Homo sapiens: one gene and its partners. The protein of the gene in region 3 purifies or fractionates together with the protein of the main gene of each other region. This does not show direct contact. Each region holds a gene or a part of one and is shown on either strand. Other genes may lie near its edges. The genes, in order: KCTD3, SLC38A2 and DACT3.

Evidence for each region.
Region 1: the proteins of DACT3 (region 3) and KCTD3 purify together in Homo sapiens (affinity purification with mass spectrometry, with the first as the bait; one large-scale study listed by BioGRID). This does not show direct contact.
Region 2: the proteins of DACT3 (region 3) and SLC38A2 purify together in Homo sapiens (affinity purification with mass spectrometry; one large-scale study listed by BioGRID and IntAct). This does not show direct contact.

Annotation. Positions count from the first base shown.
Region 1 is NC_000001.11:215,580,690-215,584,338, reverse strand, and holds part of KCTD3 (BTB/POZ domain-containing protein KCTD3), read right to left. Parts: intron 1-3,649. UniProt on the Homo sapiens protein: Accessory subunit of potassium/sodium hyperpolarization-activated cyclic nucleotide-gated channel 3 (HCN3) up-regulating its cell-surface expression and current density without affecting its voltage dependence and kinetics.
Region 2 is NC_000012.12:46,362,676-46,366,324, reverse strand, and holds part of SLC38A2 (sodium-coupled neutral amino acid symporter 2), read left to right. Parts: intron 1-1,135; coding exon 1,136-1,218; intron 1,219-1,622; coding exon 1,623-1,681; intron 1,682-1,768; coding exon 1,769-1,936; intron 1,937-2,321; coding exon 2,322-2,401; intron 2,402-2,498; coding exon 2,499-2,599; intron 2,600-3,179; coding exon 3,180-3,304; intron 3,305-3,649. UniProt on the Homo sapiens protein: Symporter that cotransports neutral amino acids and sodium ions from the extracellular to the intracellular side of the cell membrane.
Region 3 is NC_000019.10:46,647,034-46,651,314, forward strand, and holds the end of DACT3 (dapper homolog 3), read right to left. Parts: intron 2,840-4,281; coding exon 1,449-2,839; 3' UTR 518-1,448; downstream 1-517. UniProt on the Homo sapiens protein: May be involved in regulation of intracellular signaling pathways during development. Specifically thought to play a role in canonical and/or non-canonical Wnt signaling pathways through interaction with DSH (Dishevelled) family proteins.

The DNA of each region.
Region 1 (3,649 bases), on a different chromosome or scaffold from region 3:
TATTTTGCAAACAAATCAGTCCTACCATGATTTCTTTAGTAAAAATGAAAGACTGAAAATAGGAAAATTGTTTCAAAAACTATGGTATGCTTTTTATTAGATTTGTCTCATCAGTAGTTTTTGAGTTCTTTCTGCAATTTGGACTCATCCTGCTTATCCTTGTGGACCAAGCAGTGATCTGTGGCTGCTGTTCAGAAGAAACAAGAGGCATGGGTAACACAGAAATCTGGATCAGTATTCTAATTGTGGGCATGTATTGGAATTGGCTAGCACATCAGCTTGGTTCCAACTCCATATCAGCTTGGTTACAACAATTTCCCAGTTCATGAAAAGCCTTCTTATTTAGTTTACTTGGGATAATTTTACTTATTTTGCCTTGTTATTGTAGAATATACTGCTGTTGTTCTCTTTGTGTAGGAATGCAAGATAAGCTTACTCAGTGCTTTCTTAAATCGAACACTTATTAATTTTTCAGTCATCACTTTTTGTCAGAAATCAGAGTTCTCACCATACTGACAGTTTCTAACTGAGCTCTCCTCTACTCTGAATGCAGAAGACCCTAATAGGCAGAAATACCATCATCCCTATTCAGACTGCAGAAGTTACAGAAGATGAATCTTCCTCCCTCTGAAACCCTTAGGATTAAGAGTACCCTTGTAAAAGGGAAGGGGAAAACATGTCAGAGGTGTTCAAACCAGAGTTGAATGGGGACTGAGTAAAATAAGGCTGAGACCTGCTGGGCTGCATTCCCAGGAGGTTAGGCATTCTTAGTCACAGCGTAACAAGGAAGGTCAGCACAAGGTAAAGGTCACAAAGATCCCGCTGACAAAACAGGACGGAGTAAAGAAGCCAGCCAAAACTGAAACCAAGATGGCAACAAAAGTGACCTCTGGTCGTCCTCACTGCTCATTATACGCTAATTATAATGCATTATCATGCTAAAAGACACTCTCACCAGCCCCATGATAGTTTACAAATGACATCTAATGTCTGGAAGTTACCCTATATGGTCTAAAAAGGGGAGGAACATTCAGTTCTGGGAATTGCCTGCTCCTTTCTGAAACACTCATGAATAATCCACCCCTTATTTAGTATATAATCAAGAAATAACTGTAAGTATACTCAGTCAAGCAGCCCTCAGGGCTGCTCTGGCTATGGAGTAGCCATTCTTTTATTCCTTTACTTTCTTAATAAACTTGGATTCACTTAAAAAAAAAAACTATATAATCTCATCTTTTACAGACATATTACTTCTAAGTTGTTTTTCTCTATAGTAATTAGGGTATTACACAATAAAGAGATGTCAAAAAAGGATAAAAGAATCAGGACAGCATATTTAAAAATAACTATAACAACTACAGAATTTAACTCTTAATAAGATATGTGAATTTACCTGTTTTTTAAAAAATTACAAAGAAGGTACATATTTGCTCTATAACTTTCCATACAAGTAATACATTTAAAATATGTAGAACAAGGCCAGGCACAGTGGCTCACGCCTGGAATCCCAGCACTTTGGAAGGCTGAGGCGGGTGAATCACTTGAGATCAGGAGTTTGAAAACAGTCTGGCCAACATGGTGAAACCCCGTCTCTACTAAAAATACAAAAATTGGCCAGGTGTGGTGGTGCACACCTGTAGTCCCAGCTACTCAGGAGGCTGAGGTGGGAGAATTGCTTGAACCCAGGAGGCAGGTGTTGCAGTGACCCGAGATCACGCCACTGCACTCTAGCCTGGGTGACAGTGCAAGACTCTGTCTCAAAATCTCAAAAACAAAACAAAACAAAAAATATATAATAATAAATAAAACAAAATATAAAACAAGAATATGCTCTGTTATTTCACCTCTCCATCATCTTACTGCTGCCTAGTGAACCAACCCTCTGGTTAAGACAGCTATGCGAAGAATAGAGTTACGTCTAGTTATTTCCTACATGAAGACCTCAATAAAATACAGTAGAGAGGACATGCCCTGTGAGATTTTGAAACTTATTATGAACATACTTCACCTCAAGTTGTATGAGAATAGACATATGTCTTAAGGAAATGAGAGAACTGAAAAACAGATCCAAGTATATACACACACATAAAGCAAGATAAAATGGGCTATCAGATTCACTGACAAAGAATGATTTACGTAATAAATTGTCAGAACATAATTACCTACCCACTGAGAAGAAAATAAATCCTTAAATCTCATACCACATACAAAAAAGTAAACTCCACAAGGATTAAAGATCTAAAGTGGAATATAAGCCCCAAGGGGGCAGCAATTCACACAACTACTCTTCGTTAATAGAAGTAACACTGTCATAAACTCAGCAAGAAAAAGGGACATAAACATAAAACCTAACCATGTAGAAAATTAGTGAAGCTAGGAGAACATCATACAGGTCTTCACTGTACTACTCTTTTTTTAAAGGTTTTGTAACTTACTGATACAAAAACTTGAGGAAAAATAACTTGTAAAAAAGATTACACTTTTAAACAGTTTAAATATTTTTCTTTCTTTTGAAATCTTTTTATTGCCATTGTGTTGAATGATTTAACTATATGTGAGGAAATCCAAATATGTCCTCAATTGTCTTCCTTCGTCACTTTACATGAGTATATTGCTCTGAAATGTCAGACACTTGGTGAAAGCACAGAAAGATCGTGATCAATGCAAACGCAAAGACTGGAAAATGTAATAGCATCATCCTCCATACAATTATTACCCAGTGAGTTAAATTTTGCGTAATAATGTGGTGGTTCTGGAAAAGAGCAATCTTTAGTATTGTGTACAGTAACAAAACGGAAGTTATGCTGTTACACTTGGATCACTTATCATTTCACAATTCTTCTGGAATTCCTTATTGACAAAAATATGTACATAATATGTAAACAAGGGTCTACAAGTCACCTCAATTCAAATATATAAGATGATAAATTCAAAACAATGCTTCCTAAAAAAAAATTACTTTACCAAATTAGTCTTGCCTCATACAAAACCATCCCCAAAGAAATTATGCAAAAAACAATTTCCATGCTATTTCATAATTAAAATTACAAATCCACAAAACACTTTTTTTAAAAATTTGTTTATTTATTTATTGAGACAGAGTCTTGCTCTGTTGCGCAGGTTGGAGTACAATGGTGAGCTATCAGCTCACTGCAACCCCCACCTCCTGGGTTCAAGTGATTCTCCTGCCTCAGCCTCCCGAGTAGCTGGGATTACAGGCATGCATCACCACACCTGGCTAATTTTTGTATCTTCAGTAGAGATGGGGTTTCACCATGTTGGTCGGGCTGATCTTGAACTCCACCCATCTCGGCCTCCCAAAGTGCTGGGATTACAGGCGTGACCCACCGTGCCCAGCCAAAACACTCTTAAAACATAAAAGTCTGCACTTAATCATTACTACAAGGAAAATATAAACCTGAGATTACTGATATAAACAGCACTTACCAGACATGCCAAACCTTTCATAAATTCAGATTTTTAAAAAAAAAATACATCTGGGATTCTTTAAACTATATCTGTAAACTTTAGAAGACATTTTAGATATTTTTCAGCTTATTGTGACTATTTTTCTTAACCGAACTCAACAGTGATAAACAAATAGTTTATGTATCTTTGATTTTTCTGCAATTAAATGAAATAATAATCT
Region 2 (3,649 bases), on a different chromosome or scaffold from region 3:
TAAGAAGGTGTATAGGAAACATAAGTGAATTTTGTGTTTAGACTTCAGTGCCATCTCCAAGATACTTCAAATATGTATGTGCAGGTACTCCAAAGTCCAAAACACTTCGGTCCCAAGCATTTTGAATAAGGGATACTCAACATGTGCCAGAAAATGTTTGGGCATGCTATAGAAACCATTTTCTTCTAGCAAAGTTACTCATCCCAGTGAACTCACAGGTATTTATCTAAAGTAAACATGGGGAAGGATAATTTACTTCCCACCCTATGTGCAGCTCATTACGTCAAAATAGAGAAGTGCTGTTATCTCAGATGTGGCTTTAGAAATTTAATTTTTTAAGCTGATCTTTAAGTGTTGGTGTTCTGCAGAGTGCTTACTGCTGAAGTGAACAGAATTCATGAGGCAATTAGAATTTGAAAATAGTGATTTAGAAGACAGTGCAATTCATGATTTACCTAAAAAGAAAAAGGCTTAGAGGATATACATAATGTTTTCTAAAGTTCAAAAGGGATATTTTTGGCTGTCTTTGGAGTTAAAGGTGGGTCAAGATGTCACAACATACTCTGATAACCTGGAATAAGTCCTGGTTTGGGGGACTGAGTTTTATAATTTTTTTTATGGGGGGGGCAGTTTGCCTGTGCATTTTATGAAAACGTTTCCTCATTGAAATATTTAATAATATTTGCTAACGCATCTGGAAAAAAACTTGTTTTAAAATTTTTTAGTTTCCAGCATTAGAAATTACATGCTAAAGCTGTACCAAAGTTGGTGTACAATTTTTCTGAAAGTGCTTAAAGATAAGATTACTGGCTTAACAAACAAGCTTTGTTCCCTGCATTAGTATCAAGTCTTTGAGAAGCATTTTGTGTTATGAATCAGCTGGCAGCCTTCCCAGAGCAAGTAGTGGGACAAAAGTTACACTGTTTTATACCCGACTTCTAACCTGAGTAAATGTTCATCTAGCACACAAAATTAAAAAGTTATTCCTATCTTGAACAGGGGAAACTTTTTCCAAACATGTCTTTTTTGTGTGTTTGTTTTCATGGTATTCCTATGAAATGAGTCCTGTTAGAAGATGTGTATATTTTTCAGAGGATATTTGTGACTGTTTTGACCTTGTTTCTGTTTTCTTTAGATTGTGGTATCTGAACGGGAACTATTTGGTTCTGTTGGTGTCATTGGTGGTCATTCTTCCTTTGTCGCTGTTTAGAAATTTAGGTGAGCAAACTCATCTCTAAAGAGAATTGAAATGAGCCTCTCACCAGTTAGTTGGGCTTTCTCTGAATAGAAATTAATCAGAATGAAAAAGCCCTAGAAAGTAGAAAGGTATATCTTTGGGACTTACAGCATGCAAAATTTAGGAGCCAAAATATTTAATTGACACTATATGTTGTGCTTTGTAAGAAATAATGCAAATGATAGTTTTTATTAGCTTGGGTTATGACAAGTATATTTAAATAAATCTATAATTTAGTATCATAAGAATTAGAAATTTAGTGCTATACACATACTTTAGTGCCTAAAGTCTTCCCAGCAGAATTGAGTTATTCAGTGGGAAAAAGATATTTGCCTTAAATCTGTTTCATTAAACTAATACTGATTCCTGCCACCCCTCCTTATAGGATATTTGGGATATACCAGTGGCCTTTCCTTGTTGTGTATGGTGTTCTTTCTGATTGTGGTGGGTATGATTTTTTTTTTAGAAAAAATTTTTTATAAGCCCTGCCATGTCACTTAGTTTAACACATGCAAAATAATATATTTTTAGGTCATTTGCAAGAAATTTCAGGTTCCGTGTCCTGTGGAAGCTGCTTTGATAATTAACGAAACAATAAACACCACCTTAACACAGCCAACAGCTCTTGTACCTGCTTTGTCACATAACGTGACTGAAAATGACTCTTGCAGACCTCACTATTTTATTTTCAACTCACAGGTAACTAAATATGCTTATTTTCTCAAAAGAAGAGTTTAGGGAAGAAAAGAGGGAAGCTATTCACTCCCAGGGTAAAGGGAGGAGGATAATAGGTGCTTTATAGAAAACATGTGATTAGCTAATTATTGAGGACTGTGAAGAAAGTTTTGGTTTACATCTGAAAATAGATTGAGAATTGAGATAATCATATGGTGCTAATAATTGACACATTCAGAAGTGAGGATATTGATCATACTTCATGAACAGATTAGAAGAATGGAAGCTAATTACACAAAGGAAACTTAGGCTTTGATTCTAAGATTGTTTACATAAAATATATGCTGCGGAAATGTGACAGCATGAGTTCGTTACATCAGATTAAGTAGATTTTTACGTTTTCTTTCAGACTGTCTATGCTGTGCCAATTCTGATCTTTTCATTTGTCTGTCATCCTGCTGTTCTTCCCATCTATGAAGAACTGAAAGAGTGAGTATTTCATTTTTACATAAATTTGAGAAAATATTAGACAATTGCTGTAACTGCTGCTGAAATATATATTTGAATTTTCTCTTGAATTACATAGCCGCAGCCGTAGAAGAATGATGAATGTGTCCAAGATTTCATTTTTTGCTATGTTTCTCATGTATCTGCTTGCCGCCCTCTTTGGATACCTAACATTTTACGGTAAGTAACGCCTCCTTTACCAAAACAAAAACAAAAACAAAAAAAAACGCTTATTGAAATGAAGCTGCTAGTTTTCTATGTGTAGTTCCATCACTTTAAAAATAGTCTGTTTTAATATATTTCATATTTGTGATGAGAAATTAAATTTAGAGCTTAGAATTTTCTGTAGTGTATTTAATCAGTAATTTCTAGAATCCAGGTTTGAAAATATCATTAATCATTTGATGGCATATTTGTATGATATGCCAGCCTCTGAGTTCATATTGCCTGTCTCCTCTCCCATCACCTTCAGACTATGTAACACAAACACAAATTGCAAGCCAAGCCAGGAGATTTAGCTGCTTAACTCCTGTTGTTTTTAATGGGAGTCATGTGGCTAAATCTCTGTGGTATTTAGAAAAATTTTCCTTCAATGTTACTTTAATTGCATTAACTATAATTCCAAACAAATCTTATTAGCCTCTTAGTTTATAGTCGTTTTGTGAGTAGCTAAATAACTGGTGCACATTTTGCTGTTAAATTTTCTACTTGGTGTCCAATGAAAACAGCCAATCAAAGTTTTTTTGGTCTTTCCCTGTAGAACATGTTGAGTCAGAATTGCTTCATACCTACTCTTCTATCTTGGGAACTGATATTCTTCTTCTCATTGTCCGTCTGGCTGTGTTAATGGCTGTGACCCTGACAGTACCAGTAGTTATTTTCCCAGTAAGTAATCACTTGCTCTGCTTTCAGTAGGAAGGAGTTTTTAGACATGTGAATATTGGTGAGATTTTCATCTTCTGGAAGAAGGGAAACACCAGTAGAACAATACTAAGTTGGTGGTGGTTTTGAAGGGGCTTTTTAAAAATACAGTGTATATTTTCAAAATACCCTGGGGACATTTTTTTCACCATAAGATATAAAATGATCTTTAAGTGTTCAGATGTTCAGGAAACAGCAGAGAAAGAGGCACAGTTTTATTTAGAAATAGTTACTATTTTGGATAGATTCCTTGTTACTTGGGCATTCTTTTCATTCATTGAAGCTGGATTTTTAAATTTTATATTGCTG
Region 3 (4,281 bases):
TTATGATGACCGTCAGAGAGGGGATTTAGGGGCTGTCTGTTTCCCATGCTGTTCCCATTTTTGTGAAACCATATTTTTTTGTTTTTTGAGACAGGGTCTTGCTTGTCATCCACGCTGGCGTGCAGTGACACAATCATGGCTCACTGCAGCCTGGGCCTCCCAGACTCACATGATTCTCCCACCTCAGCCTCCTGAGCAGCTGATAGTTCAGGAATGACCTACCACACCCAGCTAATTTTTGTATTTTCTGTAGAGATGGGGTTTTACCATGTTGCCCAAGCTGGTCTTGAACTCCTGGGCTCAAGATATCCCCCTACCCCTGCCTCCCAAAGTGCTGGGATTATAGGCATGAGCCATCACATCCCGCCTGAAATCGTATTTATAACCAAACATAACCCAATCAAAGGTTAGATTCCTTGATGTAAAATAGCCAATGGTAGGAAGATGATGTTGAGATTCACCCTGGGACCTCCCTGGAAACTGCCATATCCACAGCAAACAGAAGTTGCTCAATAAATGTTAGTCCAAAGGAAAAAGAGCATTTCTCCCATTTAATCATTCAGTGAGAGTCCACCACATATGTTACACTGTGCATTTATTTACAAAGAGGTTAGAGAAACACACAGAATCTGGCCCCCCTTTGCACTGGGGAGTCACCATCGTCATAATAAATACAGTAATTTTAAAAAAGAAAAAAAATACTAGATTGGAACAGCTGAGGGTCATCAGGCTTCCCCCATTCCCTCTCACAGGGAGTGGGGGTCATGAGATAGAAACCATCTTCCTTCCCCTCTTCTACCTCCGAATCCTCCATAATTGTCCAGGGATCGAAGTGAAAGAGTCCTTCTTTCCAGGTGTTACCAACCCCTACTTGACCCTCAAAACCCCCAAATCAGTGCTCCTTCCCTTCCCAGGGCACTCTGCAGGGACCACCTGAGTCAGACACAGAGTCTCTGACCAGGGTGCCAAGGGGATATCTTAAGGGTCCAGGGACATGGAGGGGGCACTTTGTGAATGAGAGGGGGCCATAGCTGGGCAAGGAAAGGAGGAATGAGAGGGCTCATCAGGAATGAGAGGGAGAGCGGTGGAGGGGAACAAACAGACTAGGCTTCTAAACTAAAACGGGGAAATTCAAACCGAATTACCCCTTTTGCATACATGGACACTTACTGTACAGATGAGGAAAGTGACGCCCAGAGAAGGGGAACTGTCTTGCCCAAGGGCTTCCAAGCTAGAAGCTGAACTGGGTCAAACAGGGCTCCTCCCCATTCCTCTCGGTGGTGGTGGGGGAGCCTTTTCAACCAAGACTGTTAGGAGTGGGGAGAGTGAGGGGGGTCTTTGGAAGCAGAGAAAACGATGGTCTTTGGAAGGTAGATGTGGAAGGGTCAGTGGTTGGGAGTGTGGAGGTGCAGAGGCCATGAAGGGGGAGCCCAAGCAAATCCCCAAACTCACACTGTAGTCATGACCTTGAGAGAACCCGAACGGAAACGCAGTATCTTTTTCTTGAGCGCGTGGGAAGCTTTGATTTTCACGAAGACTTTGGCGGGGCCTGCGGGCGCCCCTGCACCTGCTCCACCCCCAGAGGCCGCGGTGGCCGCCACCAGCTGCTGCGGCCACACGAGGCCACCGCTGCCGTCTGAGTCGCTGGAGGCAGAGCTGAAGGCAGGCGATTCTCCCTCGCTGGCGCTCGATTCGCTCTCCCCGTAACCCCCGCCGACGCCTCCCGCAGGCCCCCGGCGTCCCAGGGGCCCCAGGCGCCCAGCCGAGCACTCGGAGTCGCTGCCCGCGCAGCCGTAAAGCAGACGACGCTGGGGAGCTGACGGGGACGGGCCGGGGCCGGGAACACGCGCCGCAGGGGCTCGGGGCCGCACGCGGCGCCCATCGGCAGCGTCGATCTCCGCAGTGGAGCGCCAGCGACGGCAGGACCCTGCGGCCTGGGCCGCCAGCGTGGGCGCTGGGCCGCGGCGTGGCCGTGGAGGCCGAGGCTCTTCCCGCTCCGCCGTGGGGTACTTAGGGGGCCCCGAAGGGACCGCGGAGGCGCGGCCCAGCAGGCTGGTCTCAGACTGGGAGCGCGAGGCCTTGCGGGCCCTGGGCGAGCCGCGGCGGCCCGAAGCCTCGGCCATGCGTCCACGGCGGCCGGCGGCCCGGGGACGCTCCCGGGGTGGTGACTGCTCCACGCTGCGGCCGCGGGTCAGTGGCGGCGGTTTGCGGCGGGCGGCGCGGCCAGGGAGGCCTCGGGTGGCCGCCTGCGCGCCCGGGATGTACTGCGCCTTCACCAAGCGGCCCTCAGCCGGGCTGTCGGGGGGTGAGGGGGCGGCGGGCGGCGCAGCGGGCTCGGGTGCCGCCTCCGACTCCCACGACGACGCCCAGGCGCGGCTCAAGGCGGCAGGGCTGGTGGGGTGGCCCCCGACGCGCTCCAACGAGGGCTCCCGCGCGGGTCGCGCGCTGCCGGGGGACGGAGACGCGTCGGGCGGCCGCTGGCGCACGCTGTTCTGGCGCCGCGGGCCGCCGTCCGCGCCCCCGGGACTGGTCCGGGGCTGGCCCGCCCCCCGGCGGCGGCGCCTGCGCAGGAGCGCCGAGATGTAGCCGTCCAGGGGCCGCCCTGCGCCCCCCGCGTCGGGCGAGTCGGTGGGAGGGCGGCCGCAGGGCCGCGGGCTGCGCATCGCCACGGCGTGCAGGGGGCTGGGCGTCAGAAAGGGCCCGGCGCGGGCCCGCCGCTCCGCCGAGGAGCAGGCCTCCGGGCCGGCGGACCCCCCTGCCGTCGGGTAGGGCGCTGAGAAGGACCGCGGCACCGCTGCCCGCGCGCCCACCACCTCCGGAGCGCTGGGACTGGCGTCTCCTAGGGAAGGAAGGCCAAAAAAAAAAAAAAAAGAGAGAGTGGAGGGGCTCTCAAAGTCCTTTCCCATTTCTCATCCAGCCCGGAAGGGGCGGGTTGCCTCCCTCCCTTCCATCCTCATCGCAGCAAAAACCCTGCTCTCACACCTTCCTTCTTGTAAAATTCATAATAAAATCTTTACAGGGTCCTACAAGACCCTGCGTGACTTGTCCTGCCTCTGCCTCTGCCTCTCCAACTCTCACAACATCTTACCCCCTATTTTTTTTTTTTTTTTTTTTTTGAGACGGAGTCTCGTTCTGTCGCCCAGGCTGGAGTGCAGTAGCCCGATCTCGGCTCACTGCAAGCTCCGCCTCCCGGGTTCATGCCATTCTCCTCCTGAGTGGCTGGGACTACAGGCGCCCGCCACCACGCCCGGCTAATTTTTTTGTATTTTTAGTAGAGACGGGGTTTCACCGTGTTCGCCAGGATGGTCTCGATCTCCTGACCTCGTGATCCTCCCGCCTCGGCCTCCCAAAGTGCTGGGATTACAGGTGTGAGCCACTGCGCCTGGCCTTTTTTTTTTAAGACAGGTTCTTGCTTGCTCTGTCACCCAGGCTGGAGTGCAGTGGCGCAATCATAGCTCACTGCAGTTTCCAGCTCCTGGGCTCAAGGGATCCTCTCGCCTTATCTTCCTGAACGGCTGGGACTACAGGAACGCATCACCATGCCCTGCTGATTTTTTTATTTTTTGTAGGGATGGGGTCTCACTGTGTTGCCCAGTCTAGTCTCCAGCTCCCAGGCTCAAATAATCCTCCCGCCTCAGCCTCCTAAAGTGCTGGGATTACAGGCATGAACCACTGAGCTGACCCTTCTCCTCTACTTATAGGACTCCAGCCACACTGGCCTCCTGAAAGCAGGCGCCAGTCACATTCTGGCCTCAGAGCCTTTCTGCTTCCCATTCCAGATTCCAGATGCCCGGAATGCTCTTCCTTCTGGATATCTGCTAGGTCCACTCCCCCACTTAGTTCAGGGCACAACTCAAATGTTACAGTCTCAGTGAAGCCCTCCCCAGCCATATTTTCTAAAATTGCACTTCCCTCCCCAAACTCAAAGGGACACTTCTGAGTCCCTTTCCCCGGCTTATTTCTTGTCATAGCACATGGCATTATTTCGTACCCTAGATATTTTACTTATTTATCCTGGTTTATTTATTTATCTATTTATTTATTTATTTATTTATTTATTTATTTTTTAGACGAAGTCTCGCTCTGTCACCCAGGCTGGAGTGCAGTGGCATGATCTCAGCTCACTGCAATCTCTGCCACCCAGGTTCAAGCGATTCTCCTGCCTCAGCCTCCTGAGTAGCTGGGATTACAGGCACGCGCCACCACGCCCAGCTAATTTTTGTATTTTTTGTAGAGACGGGGTTTCACCATGTTGGTCAGGCTGGTCTGGAACTCCAGACC